Regions from separate parts of the Homo sapiens genome. Here all the other regions are linked to region 1. The links come from fine-mapping of genetic effects on gene expression. A gene starts in region 1. Each other region holds a variant in brackets. All regions are shown on one strand. Distances are between the middles of the regions.

Region 1 (5,558 bases):
ACATAAATAATAGCAGCTGATATTATTACTATCTTCCTCGGGCATTTAATTAAAAGACTAGGCAGGACAAAAAAAAAAGTGACAGAATTTGAAGCCACTTAGTAACTGTTGCATCAAAAAGTTCACCCACTCTGAATTACAAGTGGTAACTATCTAGATAGAGGACTGGGGCTTTTTGGGGTGGGAACCTGATGAGTATGCTGTTTATGAGGATATTCTTAAGGTCAGTACCCTAGCGGGGGATGCAATAATCTCTGGCAACAAGCCAGAATCATCACCGTATAATTTTATAATGATAGAGAACCAATAGCATACATGAAAAGTCTCTTGACAGGGCTGGGATTCTTTCTTTCGTCCAACATCTCATCACATTAGCAAATCAGGGGCCTACCACCATGGACCATTTCGAACCACTTCTTCATCCAATAACCACTAATTGTGCACTTATTTTGCGCTGGGTACTGCAAGGATGTGTACTGCCCCACAGTCTAGGTGGAGAAACAAACAAAAGGATTCATTTCTTAATTCAACAATTATTTACTGGATAGCTACCATGTGTCAAATCCTAAACTAGGTGCTGGGCATAGGGAACAAAACAGACCAGCTGCCCTCATGCTGCTGACATTTTACAGGAGAGGATAATACATGAAATAAGAGGCACACAGTCTATCAGATGGTGGTGAGTGCAAAGAGAAAAATAAAGCAGAGGAGGAACTAGGAGGTGTTCCCGTGGGTGGGTGGGCAGCACTTTTAATTTGGATAGTCAGGAAAGGCTTTACAGTGAGGTGGATAATTGCAATCTAGAGATATGTTTAAAGCATAGCGGGGCCCAAGGGAAAGCGCTGCCGGGCTTCTCTACCTGCCCTCCCCGAACAGCCTTTAAGACAGCCACACAACTCCATACTGTGTGAGCTCTCGCAGGGCAGAAATTTCATTTTCTCTTACTCTTTGCTCTCAGCTTAGTAGAGAGCATTGCACAGTGAAGACGATACACTGACTGAAAGTGTCACTGAGCAATGGGCTCGTAACCTGAGGCACACAGAAACCAAACTGTGGCACAGGCTTTTGAGAAAAGAAAAACTTCTATTGCCAGTCAACTGGCAAGGAGACAAGAGGCAAAGCTTAAATCTGTCTTCTGGACCTGGGAGCGGGTCAGGCGTTTTTGGCATTTCTAACCAGTCCCAGGTGATGCCAATGCAGCCTTCTGCGGGGCGCGCGGTGTTCACAATTAGAAAGCTTTCCCTCTTGCACACGCCCGGGAGATTTTGGCTCTGCCTCGCTGTAACAACTTAAGTAATGGTTAATCGGTTTCAGCTGGTCCTAATGTTACAAAAAGAGCTAATATTTAAGTCAGTTCATCAGAAAGCAATGTTTGAGCACCAGCTATGCTGAGATTCCCTCGTTCAGTATTCGTTGAGCACCCAGTGTGTGAGAGCGCCTGGTTTTGCCCTCAAGGAGCTTAGAGTGGAGTTTACAGGAATGAATCACTGATTAGCGGCAGGCCTAAGTGTGGGCACTGTCGCACCACACACCCAGATACTACTCCAGGCACGGGCATTAGGGGCTCCCACAGGCTGGACAGGCCTTGGACTTTCCTGGTTGAACCGTGAGGCCGCGGTGTCAGTCCACACTCCACTGTGGGTGGCGGGTTCGGCCCCGCGAGGAGGCGCCGCTCTCAAACCCCACGGTCCCGCGCAGCGAAGAGGCGAGGCGGCCGCGGAAGGCAGGCGCAGCCCACTCTTCCCGAGAGGCCCCGACATCTCCCGGGTGAGTCCCGAAAAGCGCGCGGGGACTCCGGCTGAGCGCTGGGCCGTCAGCAACCCGGCTCCCAGAGAGTCACACGAAGGAGGGGAAGCGGCTCTCTCTGGGGCTTCTGGGAGGTCTGGCCCGGGCCCCTCCCGCAGCCTCCGGCGGCCAGTCCCGCGGCTCTGGGGCGCCCGGACCGAGCAAAGGTCCCGGCGGGCGGGCCCTCTCTCCGCCCTCCCCAAGCGCCCGCCCCCCGCCGGCCCAGCGCAGGCTCCTCCGACTCCGCCAGCGCAGGGGGCGCGGCTGCCGGGGACCCAGCAGCGGGCGCGCGGGTAAGTGCGCGGCGGGCGCGGGCTGCGGGATCCGCTCCGGGCTCCACTCCGGATCCTCTTTGGTCTGTTTGGGTGTCCCGGGCCGGGGGCAGCCGAGGCCGCGCGGCGCTTTCTCTCTGGGCCACCCTCCCCTCGCTCCTTCCTAGGGGAGACGAATCGATTGGCTGCCCGGCCGCCGGAACGGCAGGTCCCGTCGCTCCCCTCGCCTCCCGCATTCCCGGCCCGGTCCCCTCCCATCACCGCGTCCCGCCCCAACTCGCAGTCAGCATCCCCTTCCCATCCTCTCCCCGTCCCCGCTGCCACTTCCTTCCTTGGATGTTGGAAGCGCAGCTGGTATTTTCGTTCTCCCAACCCCCCAAACCCCCCCTCCCCATTCGTTCATCCTTTGTGTTCCGGTCTCTTCTCTGGGTGCTGCGGAGGCTCTCCCGGCTCGGGGGCGTGTGTGCAGGGAGGCGGACCGCGGAACAGATACGGAGTTCAGTCTCTCTGGACGGAAAAAAGTCCCCCTCCACTTTGCTCCGGTATCTAGAGAGCTCCTAGCTTGGGGAGGAGGCCAAGCCCCACTCGGTGTGCCTGGCATGCGCTGGAATGGCTCTCAAGAGCTGCCCGCGTGGCTTCCTTTGGTCTCCATTTGAGGACCTCTGACCCTTTCCAGAGCCGCTTGCCGTCTGCACCCCGAGGGGAAAGACTAGAGGGCACCTCTTAGAAAAGCGCTGGTTGTGGACTGAACACACCGACCACCCACTCCTCCAGAGTCTACTCTGTCCAGAATAGTGAATGGGATAATGAAAGGGATGGATGGCTTGCGGTCGCTGTCCTCGAGACGCAGGCAGGTGGGGCAAGTCCAAGTGGAATGAAAGGAGTGCTGTGGGGTTGGAGAAGCAGCTGAAGAGTGAAATTAATTGTCTTCACAATCTACCACCACCAAGCTCTTTTTCTAAAGGAGAAGTTGAGCCCAGACCATTAGGTAGATCTGAGAGAGAAAGGGCCCAACCCCCTAGCCACGGTCCCTTGGCTAGGTTCTTTGTTATTGTTGAGAGAGGGTCTCGCTCTGTCACCAAGGCTGGAGTGCAGTGGCACTATCCTAGCTCACTGCAGCCTTGAATTCCTGGGCTCAAGGGATCCTCCCATACACCCGTAGCTGAGACCGCAGGTGCCTGCCACCACACCGCATCTTCTCTATTCTTACCCAGACTGCCCTCTGTTACCCACTCCACTTCCCCAAAGCCTTTGGCGCCTCACTCTCCTTCTCCTTTCGAGCTCCTGCCTGTCTTATGACCATCATTGCGTTCACATACCGATTTTTATTTTAGAAAGAAATGATGAAATATTAATTTGTCTTCTCATTAAAAATGAGCTCAGGTACTGGGCTGTAGGGATAGGAAGATAAAAGATGCCACCTCTGTTCTAATTTAATAGACCCAATTGCACTTTGCTATCTAGAAAACTAAAACTAATTCAAAGTATGCTGAAATTGCTAACAATGAGACAAGTAGACAAGTACAGCCATGTTTCGTCTCCCCAGATAGAAAGGAAATGACACATGTTCCATAGCAATGATTTCTGTTTCCACCGTAACTGAGGTTTACCTTTTTCAAGGGCACTTTCTTATGTTACAGAATGAGTCATATGAGGCCCACATTAGAACAGAAAAAAAGCTGAACAGGGAGCCAGCAGAGTAGAGTGGTCAAGGGCACAGGCTTTGGAGTCAGGTGGACCTCGGGTGGAATCTTGGCTCAGCACTGATTCTCTATGTGATGTTCAATCCCCTCCAGTCAAAGACCTCCAGGAACACACTGTCAGTTCAATAAGTTGGTTTATTTCTCCTTAAAGTGAGGGACACCATGGGGAACCCTGAGATGTCTCAATAAGAGGTGTTAGAAAGGACAGAGGATTTGGGCATGTAGTAGGTGATTTGGGGAAAGAGGGCTTTGCTCTGAATTGGATGTGGTCAGGGAAGCAGGGGAAGTTCTGTGATTGAGTATCCTCGTAAATCTCGTCAAAAATGAGAGAAGGCCAGAGAGAGGCTATAGCTGTGATTGGTCAGGAAGCAGCAGTCACTCATTAGGACTGCTAATGATTGGAAGGGGGGTGGTATTTGATCATTTTTGTGCTTTGAACGTGTTCATGTTTTGTCTGTGTTCAGGCATGATTACAGAGAAGCCTTGTTTTCATGTTGATTTATCATGACAAGACTGGCCTTGCCTGATGTTGATGCTCTGTGCCATTATTCATGGTCAGCAACACCAGGGCCTGATAGTTCCAGGCCAGTTCCCTGATAGGGCTGCTTCTTTCTTTGCTGTGATCTTGGGCAAGTTACTTAACATCTTTGAACCTCAGCTTCCTCACACTGCCTACTTCAAAGAGTTATTATGAAGATTAAATAAGGAAATGTGTATAAGGCAGTAAGACCCATGCCTGGAACATAGCAGATACTCAACAAACAGTTGCTCCTCTCTTTGTCTAGAGTATTTGATGTTGAAGTTTCTTTTCTAGAACTCTTCAGGCAGAGGCCCAGGGTTCAACCAGAGCTGCTTTTAAGAAGAATCCTGAATGGAGTGTGAGAAAGAATGAGGTTTCTCTTCTAATTTAAAAACTAGATAACTCCATGACTGAATCAGTCTTAACAGGCAGTAGTGAATATAGTTATCTTCTCCTGCAGTCATTACCTTGGCAACTATTTTTAAGATTCTTTGTTCCCAGTGGCTCCAGTTGGCTGTGTGCTTTGCTAACTTTGTGTCATTGTCCTGCTTTCTTGGTGTCTGCCCCACAAGGTCTCTTGTCCAAGAGTCTGACTCAAGCTAGGATATCCTTACTGCATTTGCTTTGGCCTTTTTAGTTCTCATCTGCTTTCAGCTGGGAAGCCAGACTAAGGACTGTTTGCTAATACAACTTTTTTTTTTTTTTTTTGAGACAAAGTTTCGCTCTTGTTGCCCAGGCTGGAGTGCAATGGCAGGATCTTGGCTCACTGCAACCTCTGCCTCCCAGGTTCAAGTGATTCTCCTGCCTCAGCCTCCCGAGTAGCTGGGATTACTGCCTGCCACCATGTCTGGCTAATTTTTGTATTTTTAGTACAGACCGGGTTTCACCATGTTGGGCCAGGCTGGTTTCAAACTCCTGACCTAGGTGATCCGCCCCACCTCGGCCTCCCAAAGTGCTGGGATTACAGGCATGAGCCACCAGGCCCGGCTGCTAATATAACTTTTAAGGCTCTGTGCGAGAGTCCGTGATCTATGTAACAACTGTGAAGTGCAGTGAGTTTTTAGGCCATGAGCTATTTGAGCATGATGCCTCCTGAGGCCATTTTCATCTTCTCCCAAATTGGAGCATTGTGAAAATGTTAATCCAGAGTCTGACTTTTGGCTGAGACATGACTGTGCTTGTCTGTGTCGGGCAACTTGAGTTCTAGATCCTTCATTCATTTGGACCTGGCCATACTCTTTAATCTTTCCTGGCTGACTAGTTATCTTATGTGTTTGA
Region 2 (5,558 bases), 29 kb after region 1:
ATTCTCCCGCCTCAGCCTCCCAAGTAGCTGGGACTACAGGTGCGTGCCACCACGCCCAGCTAATTTTTGCATTTTTAGTAGAGACGGGGTTTCACCATATTGGCCAGGCTGGTCTTGAACTCCTGACCTTGTGATCTGCCCATCTCAGCCTCCCAAAGTGCTGGGATTACAGGTGTGAGCCACTGTGCCCAGCTGAGCTTTATTTTTAAAGGCAACTTCAGATCTTTTTGGAACTAGGTAGGATTTAAGTCCTAAGAAGAATCATTCAAGTACTATTTTCTTCTAAGACTGATAGGCATTATTGTATTTCTTCAAATCCAAGATGTCATCCATTGAAAGAGGCACCATTATTCTATGTACCATTGAGAAAGAACACTGCCAATTAAACTATGCCACCTATCAATTTTAAAACATCCTGATTTCTGAGATGTTAAAATGTAAAGAAAAAAATATGTGTCTCAGAACTGATGAGCTGCAGTGTCTACAGTCAGGATGGCTGGGATGAGTCAGGAGTTAGAATTCAGGTGAGCAGATGTTTGTTCCACTTGGGCTGTTCATATAGTGTTTGACACAGAGACTCAACTCATCACTGCACTTCTCATCTCTCTGAACCCTCCAGTGAGCTGGTGGGTGAGGCATGAGTCCAGTTGGTTTAGCCAGGAATCTGAATATCAGACATAGCTCCTTCTTCACCTTCTCTCCCACACCTTGTCTCTTACCAGTTGATTCTGCCTCTTAAATATCAACCTTATCTGTTCCCATTCCCCCAGTCTCATGACAGTTTCTCTGGGAAATGGTGCAGGCCTCCACCAACCATCTCTTACCTGTTCTCGTCTCTCCCCTTCCAGTTGATTCTCCACAGGGTAGCCAGTCGGATCCCCTTACTGCCCAGCCATGCCTTCTGTGCTCTCCCCTGTCCTAGGAGGATGCCCACAGGCTCCTCTGTGCAACAGAGCCATGCTTTCAATCTCTAGCCTAATCTCTCACCAGTTGCCCTCACATCCTCCAGGTCAGTCGCTGAGCTAATTTCAGTTCCTGGGATTAATACTCCAGGCTCCTTCTACCTCCAGTCCTTGTCTGATGTTCACTCCTCCTGTCTGCACAGAGGCATGAAGGACACACACAGACTCACTTCTCCTGTGTCACCCAGCCAATTCCTCAGTATTCCTTAGGTTAGACCCCACTTCCTTCAGGAGCCACATCACCCCTGGTGGCATACTAACCACGCCGTAGGGTCAAGTGTGTCGGAAGTTGCCTGCGTCTGTGTCCGTTTCCCTCCTGGAACGCCCTGCCTCCTTTGTTGTGGGGTCTGGCGCAGTGCCTTTGGCACACTGAGCCCAGTTTGCTTGAAAGGATAATTGGTTTATCTTTATTCTACAACTGAGGAGCCTGAATGTGGAAATTAATTAGTTTGCCTAGATTCAGGATTTAAAACCAAGTTCACTAAACACATGATTTTTCCGATCCAACTTCTATGCACAGAGCTTGGAAACAGACACATGTTCCAAGGGCTTTGGCGTGAAGTCACTTCTGGGCATCAGCTGCGTTTGGTTTATCATCTTCCAGGCTTGCTGCATTTCATCCACTGGTTGCAGTTAATTAATTACTCGTCTAAAGGGCTGAACATCTACAGGTTCTCAGTCATTTTTTCCTTTCTCTTTCCAGGGGTCGTCGTATGTGAGTAAGATAAGGTATTAGAGACTATAATGTGGACAGAGGCGGAGCAGCCACAGTCTGCGGGTGACTTGGTCACTTTGGCAACAATGTGCAGTGAGCATTCTGCCCCAATTTTGATTTTCCCAGCATTTTACAATCCTGAAGTCATCTACATTACAGCCAAGTGACAGAGAGAGAAAGAGCAGGGCTTATCTCACTGTGTTGGAAGTGGAGGCCCAGGGCACAGGAGTTGAGGTTTCTAGAGATTTCCTGCCCCCGGCTGTGGGCTGAGCATCTCTGATGTGTGGGAAGTTTCTGTTATGAAACGTGGTTGAAATGGGGACTGCTAGTACCTGCGGGGGAGACAGTGGGCGGCTGCTTTCGTTTCCAAGAGGATCCACTTCCTGACTCTGGGAAGCTCTCATGGGATGGAGCAGAAAGACTGCCAGTTCTTTAACAATCAAGCATGCATTAAGCGCCTTCTGTATGCAGGGCCCAGGAAGGTTCAGGAGGGAGAGGCAGATGGGCGCAGAGCTTCGAGGGTGGATGGTGCTGAGCTGCATTCTCACCCAGCCCCTTGGCTTCTGAGTTCTTCGTGCTTCTTGTTGCTTTCTGAAATAAGGATGATGGTCACTTCATATACCAGTTAGGGTGTCTGGTTGCAAAGAACATTTGTTATTATCTCACATAAGAAAACATCTCGAAGAGGGTGCGTCCCGGTTGACTGAATGGTTAACGGCAGAAGGTCAGTTCGGTGGCTCTGTGGGCCCCTGTGGCAGCCGCCATCTGTCCTGGCAGCTCAAGTTCTCTTGGTCCCTAAATGGCAGCCACATTGCAGACAAAAGGTCCAGAGGCAGAAAAGTGGCCTCTTCTTTGTGTCCCTTTTTAAGAGGGAGAAAAACTTGAGAACCCCTAACAGATTTTCCTCAGGTCTCATTGGCCAGAATTGCCCCCGATTCCTGATAAGAAAAACGGAGTGACCAAGAATGGCCGAGAGACAAATCAAGACTCATTGGCAGGGCTGGGTGCACCCTGTCTCTTCCTCCCGTTACAGCCCCCCTAGCTCCCGAACAGTGCTGGGGACGGCAGCTAGTGGCACCCCCGACTCGTAGTGTGGGAGGGTTTTGCAGCCTTCCCGGTACAGGATGCTGGGGACAGTTCCTGCAGAAGCAGCACAGATGTGGTTTGAGCGCTGCTCTCCTGCCTTCGTTGTCAAAAAGCTTACAGTCTTTGAAAAGGGTGAATGGAGCCTCCCTTGGAGGGGAAATCGGCAGATGAAGGAGGCAATGGTGTGTGTGTTCCAGGATTTTAGGGGGGCAGTTACTGAAATAAAACTCTGCCATCTCTGTAGACTGGAGGAGGTTGGTTATCAAGAGAGAAGCAGACTTTCCCACTTAATGAAATGTCACAAAGGCAAAGCCAAGGAGTTTACAGGCAATGTCTGTGGACCTAATTTTCCTACTCTACAGCTGGTGTGTGAACACACGTGTGATCCTTTGTAAACTGTAGTTTTAGCCAATAAATCAAAACCCTTGGGAGAAGTTCTGGATTTACTAAAGCCTTTATCATCAATACATATCTCTGTTTCTGTGGGTTAGTAATTCTTGCTTAATATTCCTTGAGCAGCAGGCTGGCCACCACCTTTTGGCTCTCTGTCATGTCCCCATCTCTGTTTCTGGGGAGATGTTGAAACCAGCTCTGGCAGTA[C/T]TGCACCATTTCCTCAGTCTGCATTTGTACCTTTCACTTTTTGTTGTTCTTTAGAAGAGTGTAGTGGAAAAGCACACTGGTCTCAGAGTCAGAAGATGCAGTTCCTGATTTTGGCACTGCCACTAACAGGCCATGTGGTTCAGGTGGGCCTGTCACCTCTCTGGGGCACATTCTTCACTAATGAGCAGAGACACTGGGTTAGATCTAGGTGATCAGGGCCATCCCCCTCCCATGTCCAAGCAGACACTGCCACTTAATCACAGCTTTCTTCCTCCTTACTGTCTTCCAGCCCACACTCAGCCTTAGAATCCTTTTCCTACAGCCAGGCAGTAATAGCTGATGGATTAATCAAGGTGAAAATAAAGATGAACCTGAGTTTCTGCCCAGAGCTAGATAATCCCCTTGGGTCCCTTCTAGTTTTATAATTTCTCCACAGCAGACTCAACAAAAGCTCCTGCTCTGTCATGATGTCCCCTGGGGTTTGGAGAGCCTTACCAGGCTCCCCAGGGTTTCCATTGGAAACTCTTCCTCGAGGCCATTGGTTTTTTTTTTTTTTTTTTGAGACGGAGTCTCGCTCTGTCCCCCGGGCTGGAGTGCAGTGGGCGATCTCGGCTCACTGCAAGTTCCACCTCCCGGGTTAACGCCATTCTTCTGCCTCAGCCTCCCGAGTAGCCAGGACTATGCCGGGCTGATTTTTTGTATTTTTAGTAGAGACGGGGTTTCACCATATTAACCAGGATGGTCTCGATCTCCTGACCTCGTGATCCGCCCGCCTCGGCCTCCCAAAGTGCTGGGATAACAGGCGTGAGCCACCGCGCCCGGCCTACCATTGTTACTATCAAGGGTTTTTGTGTAAGAGGACCCTGCTAGTGGTGGCTGCCTTGGCCTCTTCCCTGAGAAACTTGCATCTGGCCTGGTGCCTGGAGCATAGCAGAACTCAGGTATTTGTGGAGATGAATGAAGGAGAGTTGAAGTGTGGGGTCTGCATGACAAAGCTCGCCCTCCTGTGTCTCTGCAGGAGGCATCCCCGGGACCTCCTTTATGCTTTGGTAAAGAAACCTGCTTCCCTCCTTTTGGATATTGTCAGACTTTTAAAAGTTGTCTCTGGGTTTCTCCTCTGTGAGTTTGCATTTTGGCTCTTGAAAGTCTTAGAAGCAGAGAAAATGGAAATTAAAGCTTCAGGCTGGGAGAGGAGGCGGCTTCATTAGGGCTGGGCCTGGGGAGCTGATGGATGCTGGAAGAGCTGGAGCCTCCCTTCCTGCTGGGCTGCTCTGGTCCCCAGCAACCACGCTGGGCTCTGAGCCACGCTTCCCTCCCTCCATCTCTGCCTGCCGCCTCCCAGCAGCTCCTGCCTGGTCTCCTTTTCCAGCCATCTCTCGTCCTGTATCATGTAGCTGCTGTCTTGAATGTATCCGCGTCTTGTATCCAACTCCTGTCCTGTGTCCATGGAGCCATGCTCTTAATTGCTTTGAGGGTCCACTTCCTTAAGGGAGGGGACCACCCCTCATATTGTCTTATGCCCAATTTCTGCCTCCAAAGAAAGAAAAAGTAAAAACTAAAAGGCAGAAATGAAATCCACAAGCAGACAGCCCGGCGTCACACCCTGGGCCTGGTCGTTAAAGATTGACCCCTGACCTAATCAGTTATGTTATCTATACATTACAGACACTGTATAGAAAAGCACTGTGAAAATCCCCATCCTATTTTGTTCCAATCTGATTAGCAGAGCATGCAGCCCCCAGTCACGTACCCACTGCTTGCTCAATCGATCACGACCCTCTCATGCGCACCCCCTTAGAGTTGTGAGCCCTTAAACGGGACAGGAATTGCTCACTCAAGAGCTTGGCTCTTGAGACAGGAGTCTTGCCGACGCTCCCGGCCGAATAAACCCCTTCCTTGTTTAACTTGGTATCTGAGGAGTTTTGTCTGCGGCTCGTCCTCCTACACCTGGCTGAGGGCTCCCTTATAAAGCATCCTGAAAATTCTGGCCATTTCTTTGACCACCCTGGAAAGGGGTCTTGACTTGCCTTCCCTGCCAATAGTGGAAGGAAAAAAACATTTACAGAGCCCCTGCCATCTGCTGGGTAGAGTGTGGGTCATTTAATGCAAGATCTCACTGAACGTAACCCTCATAGCAAATTCTCAGTTTACAGATGTGCAAACTAAGCTTCAGGACTGGAGCAGTAGCTCAGCTA
Region 3 (5,558 bases), 38 kb after region 1:
TAATTCCCATGCAGGGCACACACTGTGGCTTTGTTTTGTGAGCCTCATAGAGGGACACGGGAAGGTGGGCGGAGCCAGCTAGTGTTTGTGTGGCATTTAACTCTGTGCTCGGCACACCCTAATGGCTCACTGCATGCATGTCATCTAAACCCTGACGGAACCCCATGAGGAGGGGGCCCTGTTACCAACAGTTCATGCACGAGAAAACCTAGGTGCAGAGGTGGCCCTTCACTCGAGCTTGCCCAGTGGGAGGGCAGAGCTGAGATCCGAACCCCAGCCCTGCAGGCTCCAGGGTCCCTGTTTCCTGTTCCTTCCTGGAAATGGAGTCTCTCGGCAGCTTTGTGGTTGTCATCAATGTATTTTTATCACGTGTGAGACATTTTTATAATTTGAATTTCCTTAACCAGTACTAAGATTGAACCCGTTTTTCCTATGTCTTATCTATTTGTTATTGTGGTAAAATAGATGAGACACAACATTTACTGTTGTAACCATTTTTAAGTGTAAAATTCAGTGGCATTAAATACATTCACCCTGTTGTGCCGTCATCTCTACTCTGCATTTCTAGAACTTCTTCGTCACCTCAACTAGGAACTCTGCAGCCATCAGGCAGCGAAGCCCTGCAGCCCCGGTAACCTCCAATCTGCTTTCTGTCATTATGAATTTGCCTGTTCCAGATATTTCATATGAGGAACCACACAATATTGCTCATTTGTCCCTGGAGTGTGTTACTTGGCATAATGTCTTCAAGGTTCACCCATGTTGCAGCAGATGTCAGAACTTCACTTCTTTTTTTTTTTTTTTGAGACGGAGTTTCGCTCTTGTTGCCCAGGCTGGAGTGCGGTGGCACAATCTCAGCTCACCGCAACCTCCGCCTCCCGGGTTCAAGCAATTCTCCTGCCTCAGCCTGCTGAGTAGCTGGGATTACAGGCATGTGCCTGGCTAATTTTGCATTTTCAGTAGAGACGGGGTTTCTCCATGTTGGTCAGGCTGGTCTCGAACTCCCGACCTCAGGTGATCCACCTGCCTCGGCCTCCCAAAGTGCTGGGATTACAGGCATAAGCCACTGTGCCCGGCCCAACTTCATTTCTTTTTATGGCTGTATGATATCTCATTATATGACTATAACACATTTTGTTTCTCCATTCATCTGTTGATGGACACGTGAGTTGTTTCTATTCTGGGCAGGTGATTACATTGAGATGGGACTTTCCTAGCTACTCACTCCAGTTCCAGGGCTACTTTCTGAAGCCCAGAGAACCTGAGTCTGTCTAGGATGGGTGACCCAGCATGTGTGTGGTCAGGGATGGGTGCTGAGCTTTTCAAGGTAACTAACCTCTTAAAAAAAGACCAGCATGGATACCATAATTTTTCTTGTGCTGTCACCAACTCTAGTTTGGTTCTTTTCCTGTCCATTTCATAGAATCATAGTATTGAATGAGATCTCCAGAGAAGTTATTTCATCATTTGCTTCTAAGCATGAAATCATCTCCTGTAAATAAAAATTTAGTCTGTTCTTGAAAGTTTGCAGAATTTCAAGTGGCTGGGTGGGAGCCCCAAATCTCTGCTGAGTGACTCTGGATAGGCCATGCATAACCAGCCTCAGTTTCCCCATGTGTAAAAAGACATCAAACCCCTTCTAAGAGATGAAACATCTTTCCTAGACAGGTTAAGAAGTTTCCTCTTAGTTCAAATCTAATTTCCTTCTTGCTACTCATACTTTAGGCCTATTCCTTTCTCAATGAGAAGCAATTGGTCACCATTCCTCCCATCATAATCCTGTATTCCCTGGGCCATGGCTGTGACGTCTGACATCCTTCAGCTCTGATTAAATAAAAAAGTGGAGTTTCCAGGGTCTAAGGTACATGGATTGCAGTTTCCTTCCTGGTTAGTTTTCTTTTCTTTTCCTTTTTTTTTTTGAGATGGAGTCTTGCTCTGTTGCCCTGGCTGGAGCGCAATGGCATGATCTCAGCTCATTGCAAATTCCGCCTCCCAGGTTCAAGCGATTCTCGTGCCTCAGCCTCCTTAGTAGCTAGGATTACAGGTGTGTGCCACCACGCCTGGCTAATTTTTGTATTTTTGGTGGAGACAGGGTTTCACCATGTTGGCCAGGCTGGTCTCGAACTCTTGACCTCAAGTGATCTGCCTGCCTCAGCCTCCCAAAGTGCTGGGATTACAGGTGTGAGCCACCA[C/T]GCCTGGCCCTGGTTGATTTTCTTTTCTTCTCCTTGACAACCGGCGCTGCTGTTTGACTGAAAGCCCCCTTCCCTCTGGCATCTAGCCTGGCCCCCAGAGGCCCGGCAGCTCTGAGGTGGCCTCAAGAGAGTTTGGTTTATGTCTTTCCAGGTGACCTGCCACCCCTTTCATCATGAGGAAATCAACAAAGCCTGGCTGTCACCTGCTCACTCCTCAGCTGCCTGCTGTGCAAGAGGAAATTCACACTACACCAATGTCCCCTGAGGCACTAAGCCACTCACATCCGTTTTTCTTTTTCAGAACAATAAATCTGAGAAACCCTGTGCTCCAGCAGGTGCTGGAAGGAAGGAATGAGGTCCTGTGCGTTTTGACACAGAAGATCACGACGATGCAGAAGTGTGTGATCTCTGAGCACATGCAGGTCGAGGAGAAGTGTGGTGGCATCGTGGGCATCCAGACCAAGACGGTGCAGGTGCGTGCAGTCGGGCTGCCCTGCGTTCATGGCTGAGCAGTCCTGGAGACCTTGGTTGGGGGCCTCTTTGGGTGGTGTCTTCATTAGTCAGGACTCTTTCCGTAGCAAGTTAACAGAAACCCAACTCACGTTGTCTTAAATGAGCAAGAGTGTATTGGCTCATGTAGCTGAAACACTTGGGGAAACTGGCTCCAGTCACTGCTGGATCCAGGCCTTGAGGATATATAGGGAGCTGCTTTCCCTGGGTTGATGCCCTCTCAGATGGGCTCTCCCTATGGTGCTGGCAGCTCCAGGCTTGCTCCTGATTTGCTGCAACTCCAGGGGTGAGGGGGGCCTAGGACTGGGTCTCACCAGACCGTCCCGGGATATGTTCATTCCTGAAGCAGGGCAGGGTTGCAGGCACTCGAATGGGCCAGGTGGGCTGGCGTCAGGTGCTCTTCCTGTGGGCGGCAGATGTTTCCCCAAGAAAAATGAACACACAGGCACTGATCAGGCCAAATGCAAAAGAATCCCTAGAGCCTCTCAGAGCTGGGGCTCTCACAGTGATTACTTGGAATTAGCTGCTGCAAATCCTTTGTGGGTTGAGTTAGGGCAGGTAAGATCTAGCTATCTCTACATAGATTCTTCTAGATTAAGTTATTGACAGTCTTACCAAGCTGATCTGTGAGCCAGTACTAAACTTCAATGGACTAGGTGGCCATCAGCCCCAAACTCTTTCTCCTCCAGCTTGCCATGGTGGCTGATATTTTCTTAGAGATTTACTTCTTGGGATGACTTTTGGCTTTTTCTAGAGGAACTCAGAAAGTTGTATTTGGAAGGAGCTGGAGGTAGAGGTCTGGGGCCAGCACTCTTACTGGGTTGGGGCTGGGTAGCAGCGAGGGAGGCGCCGATGGGAGATGGCTCAGGCCGGCCCTGCTGGTGCTCCTGCCACAGTCACTTCCTGCCAAAGTGTTGAAGCCTTTCAGAGTCAGGAGGCCAGCTGCCATTTCTCAACCCAAAGCAACACACTCTGACCAGGATCAAGTTGCTAAGAAAAGTTCTCTGATTGCCAGTGTTTGGCCAACAAATAGATTCTCATCTTCCTCTCACCAGGACATCGTGGGAAGGGGTCCTGTTTGTGAGAGTGTTTAAAGGCAGGAGCTTGGTGCCTGACTTCTTGGCATTTCCTGCCTCTCCTCCCTCCGGCCTCTTCCCACTTCCCTCTCTGTTCCTGGTTTTATCAGCACTGTGCACCATCTACAGGGGTCTGGAGTGATATGCACGGGGTAGGGGGCCCTCTCAGCTAGGTTCTCCCAGTCCAACTTGGCTACTGTTTAAGGTTTTCATTAGGATTTCAGTTGTTTCCATAACCTGTGATGGAGGGAATTGGGAGGTGATCTTACGTATCGTATGATCTTTGCACAGCACTGTAGACCTAACTTCACTGTATCCCACGCTCTATAATCTCGCTTTGATGCCACCAGGTTGGCCGTTTACTTGGGAATTTGTGTACTGATGCCAACAAGGATTGAATCCCCCCATCCCCCATGCTGGCTGGCTCCTCTGTTCCACTCGGTTCTGTGGACATTGCTCAGCATCTCTTATGTATAAGGCACGAGGCTGGCTGCAGTGGGGAACAGAGCAGCTTGGAGAGCCCGAGTGCACAGGTGGGAGTGTGCGCTTTTGCCCACAGGTGTCAGCGACGGAGGATGGGAATGTCACCAAGGACTCCAACGTGGTGCTGGAGATCCCAGCTGCCACCACCATTGCCTACGGTGTCATTGAGTTATACGTGAAACTGGACGGCCAGTTCGGTGAGTGCCACCTCCTATGGGTGCTGAGGGATCCCCAGCAGAGGATCCCTCAGCAGAGGGACTTGACTGCTTTCCAGAGGACTCGACTGCTTTGGAGACTGTGGGAAGAGAGGGAAAGAGGTCTGAAGAGCGTAGATTGTCCCAAGACATGGTCCCTGGACACATGGGCTGCACTGGGGGAGGGGTGTGGTGAGGGATGCCTGGAGCAATGCCACCCTCTCCTCCAACATTGGTGTGGGGCAAAGTTCCACCAGCACAGTAGAGGGCTGGGCTGTGTCCTCTGGGCATCAACCTGGGCTCTGCATCAGACACACTGGGCATCAACCCCGGTGCCATGATGTCCTATGAGGTCTCAGGCAAGTTGCTGAATCTTGCTGAGTCTTGGCTTCCCTGTCTCTGGAAGGTGAAGGGCATTTCTTCACAGGGCTGTGTGAAGATTTAATGAGATGAGGCCTATGAAGCGCCTGGCACAGTGGTCATTTATTAATTCCTCCACCTTTGCTATTAATAGCATTATCATCATTATTGTTACCCCACCTCCTCTCCACAAGTATGAAGCCAGACATGCTGAACTTGACTTTCCTCTGCTGATCACGAGTGTGTTCAAAGCGCAGAGACCCAGCTGTTGTCACGGAAGAAAATCCAAGCTTTGGTTCAGCGTGTCTGCTCACTTTAGGTGTTCACAGCCCCTTCCCTCCTCATGTTCCCAATGAGAAGAGGTTGTGTTCACTCATGAAAGCTGTGTGACCGCTCCTTAGGGACATGAGTGGGTAAATGTAACATAATAAATTGTGAAGTTTTTTAGGTGTGACAATGGTATTATAGTTATATTTATAAAAATGAGTCATCCTATCTTTGAGAGATGTACACTGAAACATTCACGGATGAAATGGTAATATGTCTGTGGTTTGATTCAAAAATAATATGAGTGGAGCATAAAGGGTGTGAGCATGGGCAGCTGCCGAGGGAAGGAGGCTTGGCTGAGAGGGGACAGTGGCTGAAGCTGGCTGATGGGCACACGCTGGTTCACGCTCCTCCTCTCTATTCCTGTGCAGTTTGACATTTTCTGTAACAGCAGTTTTTAAAAGGGCCGTGATAGA

The links. PIP is the estimated chance that this variant, and not a neighbour inherited with it, causes the effect.
Region 2: its variant is fine-mapped to the expression of GSDME in whole blood (TOPMed, PIP above 0.99). The same link has a PIP of 0.9 or more in blood mononuclear cells and monocytes.
Region 3: its variant is fine-mapped to the expression of GSDME in whole blood (TOPMed, PIP above 0.99).

The regions. Positions count from the first base shown.
Region 1 is chr7:24,753,916-24,759,473 of GRCh38, reverse strand. GSDME (gasdermin E) reads left to right here and starts at 2,010. Exons shown (of 10, transcript NM_001127453.2): 1 at 2,010-2,078. It overlaps LOC124901820 (translation initiation factor IF-2-like), which reads left to right. Exons shown (of 3, transcript XM_047421177.1): 2 at 1,537-1,812; 3 at 1,905-3,150. The coding sequence ends at 2,618. RefSeq lists silencers at 861-1,010, 1,821-2,400, 2,411-2,460 and an enhancer at 1,511-1,740.
Region 2 is chr7:24,725,171-24,730,728 of GRCh38, reverse strand. The region is part of intron 3 of GSDME (gasdermin E); the gene reads left to right. Among named protein-coding and RNA genes, the nearest start is that of GSDME, 30 kb to the left of the region's middle. RefSeq lists enhancers at 2,092-2,201, 3,072-3,291, 3,612-4,293, 4,294-4,977. The variant C/T (reference allele first, on the strand shown) is at 3,364.
Region 3 is chr7:24,716,154-24,721,711 of GRCh38, reverse strand. GSDME (gasdermin E) reads left to right here. Exons shown (of 10, transcript NM_001127453.2): 4 at 2,494-2,665; 5 at 4,338-4,458. Among named protein-coding and RNA genes, the nearest start is that of GSDME, 39 kb to the left of the region's middle. RefSeq lists enhancers at 1,052-1,151, 2,649-2,838, 2,959-3,158, 3,445-4,032. The variant C/T (reference allele first, on the strand shown) is at 2,193.